Linked DNA regions of Homo sapiens. The protein of the gene in region 2 purifies or fractionates together with the protein of the main gene of each other region. This does not show direct contact. Each region holds a gene or a part of one and is shown on either strand. Other genes may lie near its edges. The genes, in order: ACAD10 and CTBS.

Evidence for each region.
Region 1: the proteins of CTBS (region 2) and ACAD10 fractionate together in Homo sapiens (co-fractionation; one large-scale study listed by BioGRID). This does not show direct contact.

What each region holds. Positions count from the first base shown.
Region 1 is NC_000012.12:111,748,523-111,752,340, reverse strand, and holds part of ACAD10 (acyl-CoA dehydrogenase family member 10), read right to left. Parts: intron 3,169-3,818; coding exon 2,996-3,168; intron 1-2,995.
Region 2 is NC_000001.11:84,557,139-84,560,956, reverse strand, and holds part of CTBS (di-N-acetylchitobiase precursor), read left to right. Parts: intron 1-3,818. UniProt on the Homo sapiens protein: Involved in the degradation of asparagine-linked glycoproteins. Hydrolyze of N-acetyl-beta-D-glucosamine (1-4)N-acetylglucosamine chitobiose core from the reducing end of the bond, it requires prior cleavage by glycosylasparaginase.

The DNA.
Region 1 (3,818 bases), on a different chromosome or scaffold from region 2:
TGAACCACAGCACCCGGCCAGCCTGCTTAAAACAATAACAACAACAACAACAACAACAACAAAACATTATTTTGCATCAAAGCTAACAGCCTGTTTTTGTTTGTTTTTTTTTTTCCCAGACAGGGTGTTGCTCTGTTACCCAGGCTGCAGTGCAATGGCACACTCACAGGTCGCTGCAGCCTCGACCTCCCAGGCTCAGGAGATCCTCCCACCTCAGCCTCCTGAGTAGCTAGGACTATAAATGTGTGCCACCACACCTGGCTACTTTTTTTTTTTTTTTTTGAGACAGAGTATCGCTCTTGTTGCCCAGGCTGGAGTGCAATGGTGCGATCTCGGCTCACCGCAACCTCCACCTCCCGGGTTCAGGCGATTCTCCTGCCTCAGCCTCCCAAGTAGCTGGGATTACAGGCATGCGCCACCACGTCCAACTAATTTTATATTTTTAGTAGAGACAGGGTTTCTCTATGTTGGTCAGGCTGGACTCGAACTCCCGACCTCAGGTGATCTGCCCACCTCGGCCTCCCAAAGTGCTGGAATTACAGGTATGAGCCACCACACCCAGCCCCACCTGGCTACTATTTTTAATTTTTTAATTTTAATTTTTTTTTTTGAGATGGAGTCTTGCTTTGTCACTCCGGCTAGAGTGCAGTGGTGCAATCTCAGCTCAGTGCAACCTCCGCCTCCTGGATTCAAGTGATCCTCCTGCCTCAGCCTCCCAAGTAGCTGGGATTACAGGCATGTGCCACCATGCCCAGCTAACTTCTGTATTTTTAGTAGAGACGGGGTATCACCATGTTGGCGAGGCTGGTCTTAAACTCCTAACCTGAAGTGATCCGCCCACCTCAGCCTCCCAAAGTGCTGAGATTACAGGCGTTAGCCACCGCGCCCAGCCTTATTTTTTATAGAGATGAGGTTTTGCCGTATTGCCCAGGCTAGTTTCAAATTCCTGGGCTCAAGCAATCTGCCTGCCTCGGCCTCTCAGAGTGCTGGGAGTGTCACCACACCTGGCCACAGTCTTTTTTTTTAAATTTAAGTGTATATAGTGAGCAATTTCTCCATGTTAAGGAATAGATTTCCACAGCATCATTTAAAGTCTCACTGTATGCCATCTTGTGTTTTATTTGGCCAACAGTCATTGTTAGCCTTATAGGTTGTTCAGAATTTTGCTATTTCAATAAGCACTGTGGTGAACCTCCTTGTAGCAAATCTTTTGTAGATTCCTAATTACTCCAACCAAGTCTTCAGTGGAGGTGCCATGTTCATGCTATGCACTTTCTGGAGACTTCTGTCTGACTCATTCAGTCCAATTATTCTGCCAGAAGGCTGAATTTAATTCCATGTGGGGCTGAAGCACCATACCTGAGTCCATAGACAGGAGCGTTTTACTTAGAAAGAAAAAATAACTGGTCAGTCTTAACTCAAAAGGGTGTAAATCACAGGTTTGCTCGGTAATAAAAAATTCAGACTGCCTCTGTTCTTTCAATAGCAGTTCTTGTGAGACACTGGTTTTGGTCTCAGGGTTTGCGTCACCTTTCTGAAATTGATAATCACCAATTTGAATTCCTGTCCTGGAAGCAGCTGTCTTTTAACCTAGGTTTCCAAACTTTGGGGGTGGTAGGATTATGGCCGAATAAAGTTTTCTGGATGTGCTGTGGAGGAGGGTGGTACAGGCCAGATGATGGAAGCCTAGGGACAAAAACAAGCAACATGGGATCTCCCTGGTGTCTGATTTTTATTTATTTATTTATTTTTAAAGAGACAGGGTCTCACTCTGTCACCCAGGCTGGAGTGCAGTGGTGTGATCACTGCTCACTGCAGCCCTAAACTCCTGGGCTCAAGCGATCCTTCTGCCTCAGCCTCCTGAGTAGCTGGGACTAGAGACACATGCTACCATGCCTGGCACTTAAAACTTTTTCTTTTTGGCCAGGCACGGTGGCTCACGCCGGTAATCCCAGCACATTGGGAGGCTGAGGTGGGCGGATCATGAGGTCAGGAGATCGAGACCATCCTGGCTAACACGGTGAGATCGAAACCATCCTGGCTAACATGGTGAAACCCCATCTCTACTAAAAATACAAAAAATTAGCCAGGCATGGTGGCGGGTGCCTGTAGTCCCAGCTACTCGGGAGGCTGAGGCAAGAGAATGGTGTGAACCCAGTAGGCAGAGGTTGCAGTGAGCCAAGATCGCGCCACTGCACTCCAGCCTAGGCAACAGAGTGAGATTCCGTCTCAAAAAAAAAAAAAACAAAAAAAACTTTTTCTTTTTTTTGCCGGGCACGGTGGCTCACACCTGTAATCCCAGCATTTTGGGAGCCCGAGGCGGGCAGATCACGAGGTCAAGGGATCGAGACCTTCCTGGCCAACATGGTGAAACCCTGTCTCTACTAAAAATACAAAAATTAGCTGGGCGTGGTGGCACGTGCCTGTAGTCCCAACTACTTGGGAGGCTAAGGCAGGAGAATTGCTTGAACCCGGGAGGTGGAGGTTGCAGTGAGCCGAGATCACACCACTGAACTCCAGCCTGGTGACAGAGCAAGACTCCATCTCAAAAAAAAAAAAAAAATTTTTTTTTTTTTTGTAGAGACTGAGTCTCTCTTTTTCGCCTAGGCTGGTCTCAAATGCTTGGCTTCAAGCAACCCTCCTACCTAGACCTCCCAAAGTACTGGGATTATAGCTGTGAGCCATTGCACCCAGACTGATTTTTAATAATGTGCTAGCAGCATGACCTTTACACCTTGGAACCTTGCCTCTGCTGCTACAGAGCCTGGCGTTTCCCTTCAGGTCACCTCGACAGAGTGGGGTCCATTCTGCTCTGAATCCAAACTGCAGCAAAGTAGCAGATGCAAAGCAGACAGGAATGCAACTTCTTGGCAAGGACATCACCTTGCTTCACCTGCTAGGACTGCACTCAGAAAACAGGTAGGAATTGAAGTCCGACAGCAAAGCAGAAGGTGGTGGTTCTGAGTCAGTGCTGGGTGCGGGGGAAAGCACTCACGCGGGCCTTCATGAGTGCCAGGGCCCTCTCTGAGAACCCGATCAGCCTCATGCAGTGATGGATCCTGCCGGGGCCCAGTCTGCCCTGGGCGATCTCAAAGCCTCGGCCAGGGCCCAGGACCATGTTCTCTTTGGGCACACGCACGTGCTCAAATCGGACTTCACCATGGCCACCTGAAAGACCCAAACGATCACTGTGAGCAATAGCCATAGTCATTTTCCTTGGATGTGTTTATTCCTCACCTCAGTCTGGGTTATCTGCTGGCAATGTCCCTGCCCTTTATTTAGCCTTCTTACTGGGACATGGTTAAAGGGAAAAGGACGGCAGGAAACAGCCTGTTAAACACAGAAAATGAATCACTGATTTATAATGGCAAATGACTATTCTGTGATTCCTTTTATAAAAACATAATAATGCCACCTTAAGCTGAAGCTCCTAGTGGTTTGTGACAATGTAGTGATCCTATGAAAACACTGAAAGTAAAAATGTGAACACTATTAGCAGAGAACCAAACTGGGAGCGGACCAAACCAGGGCTGTGGCCTAGAGGTCAGCTGTTCACACTGGGGCCTGGAAGAGTAGGTTTGGGGTCCACTTCCTGCGTCTGCCCTGTATGGCTTCCTGTGTCACAGACTCCTGATTACTTTCTAAGTTTAGAAGAGGGAAAAAAATCCATAAATGCCTGTCTGAAATCCGCCTGCATGGTTGATATTCATGTATGGAAATGAAATGCAGGAGCATGTGACTCCAAATGTCATCATACCCTCAGACGTGGGATGTGGCAAGTCCTGAACAAGAGCAGGGGCCCCTCAGTGGTGTTTCCT
Region 2 (3,818 bases):
GTGTTCTCCATCAGAGCTCTTGGGTGACCAAGTGCATTGTCAATGAGCAGTAATATTTTGAAAGAAATCTCTTTTTTTTCTTAGTACATCTCAGCAGTGGGCTTAAGATATTCAGTAAACAGATGTGCTGTGAGCCAGGCTTTGTTATTCCATTTATAGATCACAGGCAGAGTCAATTTAGCATAATTCTTAAGTGCCATAGGATTTTTGGAATGGTAAATGAACACTGGCTTCAACTTAAAGTTACCACCCTCATTAGTCCCTAACAAGAGAATCAGCCTGTACTTTGAGCTTTAAAGCCAGGTATTGACTTCTCCTGTCTAGCTAGCAAAGTCTTAAATGGCATCATCTTCTTCCAATATAAGATTTATTTGAAGAAAGGGGTCTCTGCCTTTTAAAATGTGTTTGATCATAATTTTACCCGACATGGGAGGTTTCAGAATGAAAACCCAAAGATACAGGAAAAACTGTCCATTTTTGTGCTTAGGTTCAACGAAGTATGGACAGCTATGTAGAACTGTGATCAGAATAAAGGGCATGAGCTAATGCAAACAGACTGAGTGGGAAAACTCAGCAAGGACTGTCTGTTCAGATTTTTCTTGGCCTCTCTGTGAAGGATTTCTTCTCATGGGTATGGGGTAGGACCTCTCTGGAATGAGGGTCTTAATTTCTTTATGGCCAGCTATTACACAGAAAGGTGGTGGTGGGAAAGGTTAGAGTAACATTTTTAGACTTTATGGCTGGTTTTGGGGAAAAGAGGCTCTAGTTTCTATGACCCATTTTAGGGAAGAGGGATTCTAGTTTCTCTTTCTTTCTTTCTTTCCTTTCTTTCTTTCTTTCTTTCTTTCTTTCTTTCTTTTTTTTTTTTTTTTTGAGACAGAGTCTTGCTCTGTCGCCCAGGCTGTAGTGCAGTGGCGCCCTCTGGGTTCACTGCACCCTCTGCCTCCTGGGTTCAAGCAATTCTACTCCTCAGCTTCCCCCATAGGTGGGATTACAGGTGCCCGCCACTATGCCGGGCTAATTTTTATATTTTTAGTAGAGATGGGGTTTCACTATGTAGGCCAGTCTGGTCTCAAACTCCTGACCTCAAGTGATCCGCCTACCTTGGCCTCCCAAAGGCCTGGGATTACACGCATGGGCCACTGCACCTGGCCAACACATTGTTTAAGCTCTTAGAATTCAGGAAACATTTTGGTGAGCCTTGAAGGCCATTTAATGTCACTTCAGAAAACAATCTAATTATAACTATTTTCTTCCTCTTTTTTATTCATTGCAAAATTCCCATTGTAAGGTTATTAGTCTAATTTCAATATCGTTATTAAGTCTTTTTTTTCTGAGATGGAGTATCGCTCCGTCACCCAGGCTGGAGTGCAGTGGCACAATCTCAGTTCACTGCAACCTCTGCCTCCTAGGTGTAAGTGAGTCTCGTGCCTTAGCCTCCCAAATATCTGGGGTTATAGGGATGCCCTACCATGCCCGGCTAATTTTTTGTATTTTTAGTAGAGATGTGGTTTCACCATGTTGGCCAGGCTGGTTTGAAACTCCTGACTTCAAGTGATCCTCCCATCTCGGCCTTCCAAAGTGTTGGCATTACAGGCGTGAGCTACCGCGCCTAGCCAAATATTGTTATTAAGTCTTATATGGGCAGTTCATGGTGCCCACAAACAATTACAATAGTAGCATCAAAGACCACTGATTGCAGATCATCATAACAGATATAATAATAATAATGAAAAAGTTTGGAATATTTTAAGAATTGCCAAAATGTGACACAGACACAAAATGAGCACTTGCTGTTGGAAAAATGGCACCAGTAGACTTGTTCAATAGAGTTGCCATAAACCTTCAATTTGCAAAAAATTTAATGTCTGCAAAGCACAATAAAGCAAAGTACAATAAAATGAGGTATGCCTGTAATTTAAAAATATGTAACATAGAATCTTAGGACAGTATATACTACCATATACTGTTTCTTTGTAATCCTGACCTTAGTAATCTGTGGCTTGTTTTTTCCTTAATGAATGTGAAAATGCAGGAACACATTCTTCTTTTTTTTTAGACGAGGTTTTGCTCTGTCACCCAGGATGGAGTGCAGTGGCACAATCATGGCTCACTGCAGCCTTGACCTCTTGGGCTCAAGCAATCCTCCTGCCTCAGCCTACCAAGTAGCTAGGACCATAGGCGTGTGCCATCATGCCAGGCTGATTTTTTTACTTTTTGTAGAGACGGGGTCTTTCTATATTGCCCAGGCTGGTCTTGAACTCCTGGCCTCAAGTGATTCTCCCACCTTGGCCTCCCAAAATGCTGGGATTACAGGTGTGAGCCACTGCACTTGGCCTCTTTTTTTTTTTTAATTAAAAAAAAGTGGCCGGGCGCGGTGGCTCACGCCTGTAATCCCAGCACTTTGGGAGGCTGAGGCGGGCGGATCACGAGGTCAGGAGATCGAGACCATCCCGGCTAAAACGGTGAAACCCCGTCTCTACTAAAAATACAAAAAAAATTAGCCGGGCGTAGTGGCGGGCGCCTGTAGTCCCAGCTACTTGGGAGGCTGAGGCAGGAGAATGGCGTGAACCCGGGAGGCGGAGCTTGCAGTGAGCCGAGATCCCGCCACTGCACTCCAGCCTGGGCGACAGAGCGAGACTCCGTCTCAAAAAAAAAAAAAAGTTTAATGGCAGGCAAAAATTATCTGTATTTATGGTGTAGAAGATGATGTTTTGATATATCTATACATTGTGAAATGGCTAAATCAAGTTATTTAACATATGTATTACCTCACATACCATTTTTTAAATGGTAAGAACACTTAAAATCCATTCTCTTAGGAATTTTCAACATAATACATTGTTATTAACTATAGTTACCACGGGATACAGTAGATTTCTTGTATTTATTGTTCCTAATTGAAAATTTGTGTCTTGAAATATCTATTCTTCCCACCCCCAGCCTCTGGTAACCACCTTTTTACTCTGTTTCTATGAAGAAACACATTCTTTAGGTCTCAGAATTCAGGAAACATTTTGGTGCGCATTGAAGGCCATTTAATGCCACTTTAGAAAAAAATCTAGTTATAACTGTTTCCTTCCTCTTTTTTTTTTTTTTGAGATGGAGTCTCACTATGTCGCCCACGCTGGTGTGCAGTGGCGCGATCTTGGCTCACTGCAAGCTCCGCCTCCCGGGTTCACGCCATTCTCCTGCCTTAGCCTCCCAAGTAGCTGGGACTACAGGTGCCCGCCACCAAGCCTGGCTAATTTTTTTGTATTTTTTTAATAGAGACGGGGTTTCACTGTGTTAGCCAGGATGGTCTCGATCTCCTGACCTCATGATCTGCCCATCTCGGCCTCCCAAAGGGCTGGGATTATAGGTGTGAGCCACCGCGCCCAGCCTCCTTCTTTTTTTTTTTTTCTTTTTTTTTTTTTTTTTTTTGAGATGGAGTTTTGTTCTTTTCGCCCAGGCTGGAGTGCAGTGGCACGATCTCGGCTGACTGCGCCCTCCGCCTCCCAGGTTCAAGCAATTCTCCTGCCTCAGCGTCCTGAGTAGCTGGGATTACAGGCATGCATCACCACACCCAGCTAATTTTTGTATTTGTAGTAGAGGCAGGGTTTCACCATGTTGGCCAGGCTGGTCTTGAACTCCTGACCTCAGGTGATTCACCCATCTTGGCCTCCCAAAATGCTGGGATTACAGGCGTAAGCCATCGCGCCTGGCCCCCTCTTTTTTATTAATTGCAAAATTCTGTAGCAACATGAATCAAGTTTCTGTCTTATTTGAAGAGAATCACTCTATTGGGCTGTTTCAGCAATAGCAGCTCATCTTGGACT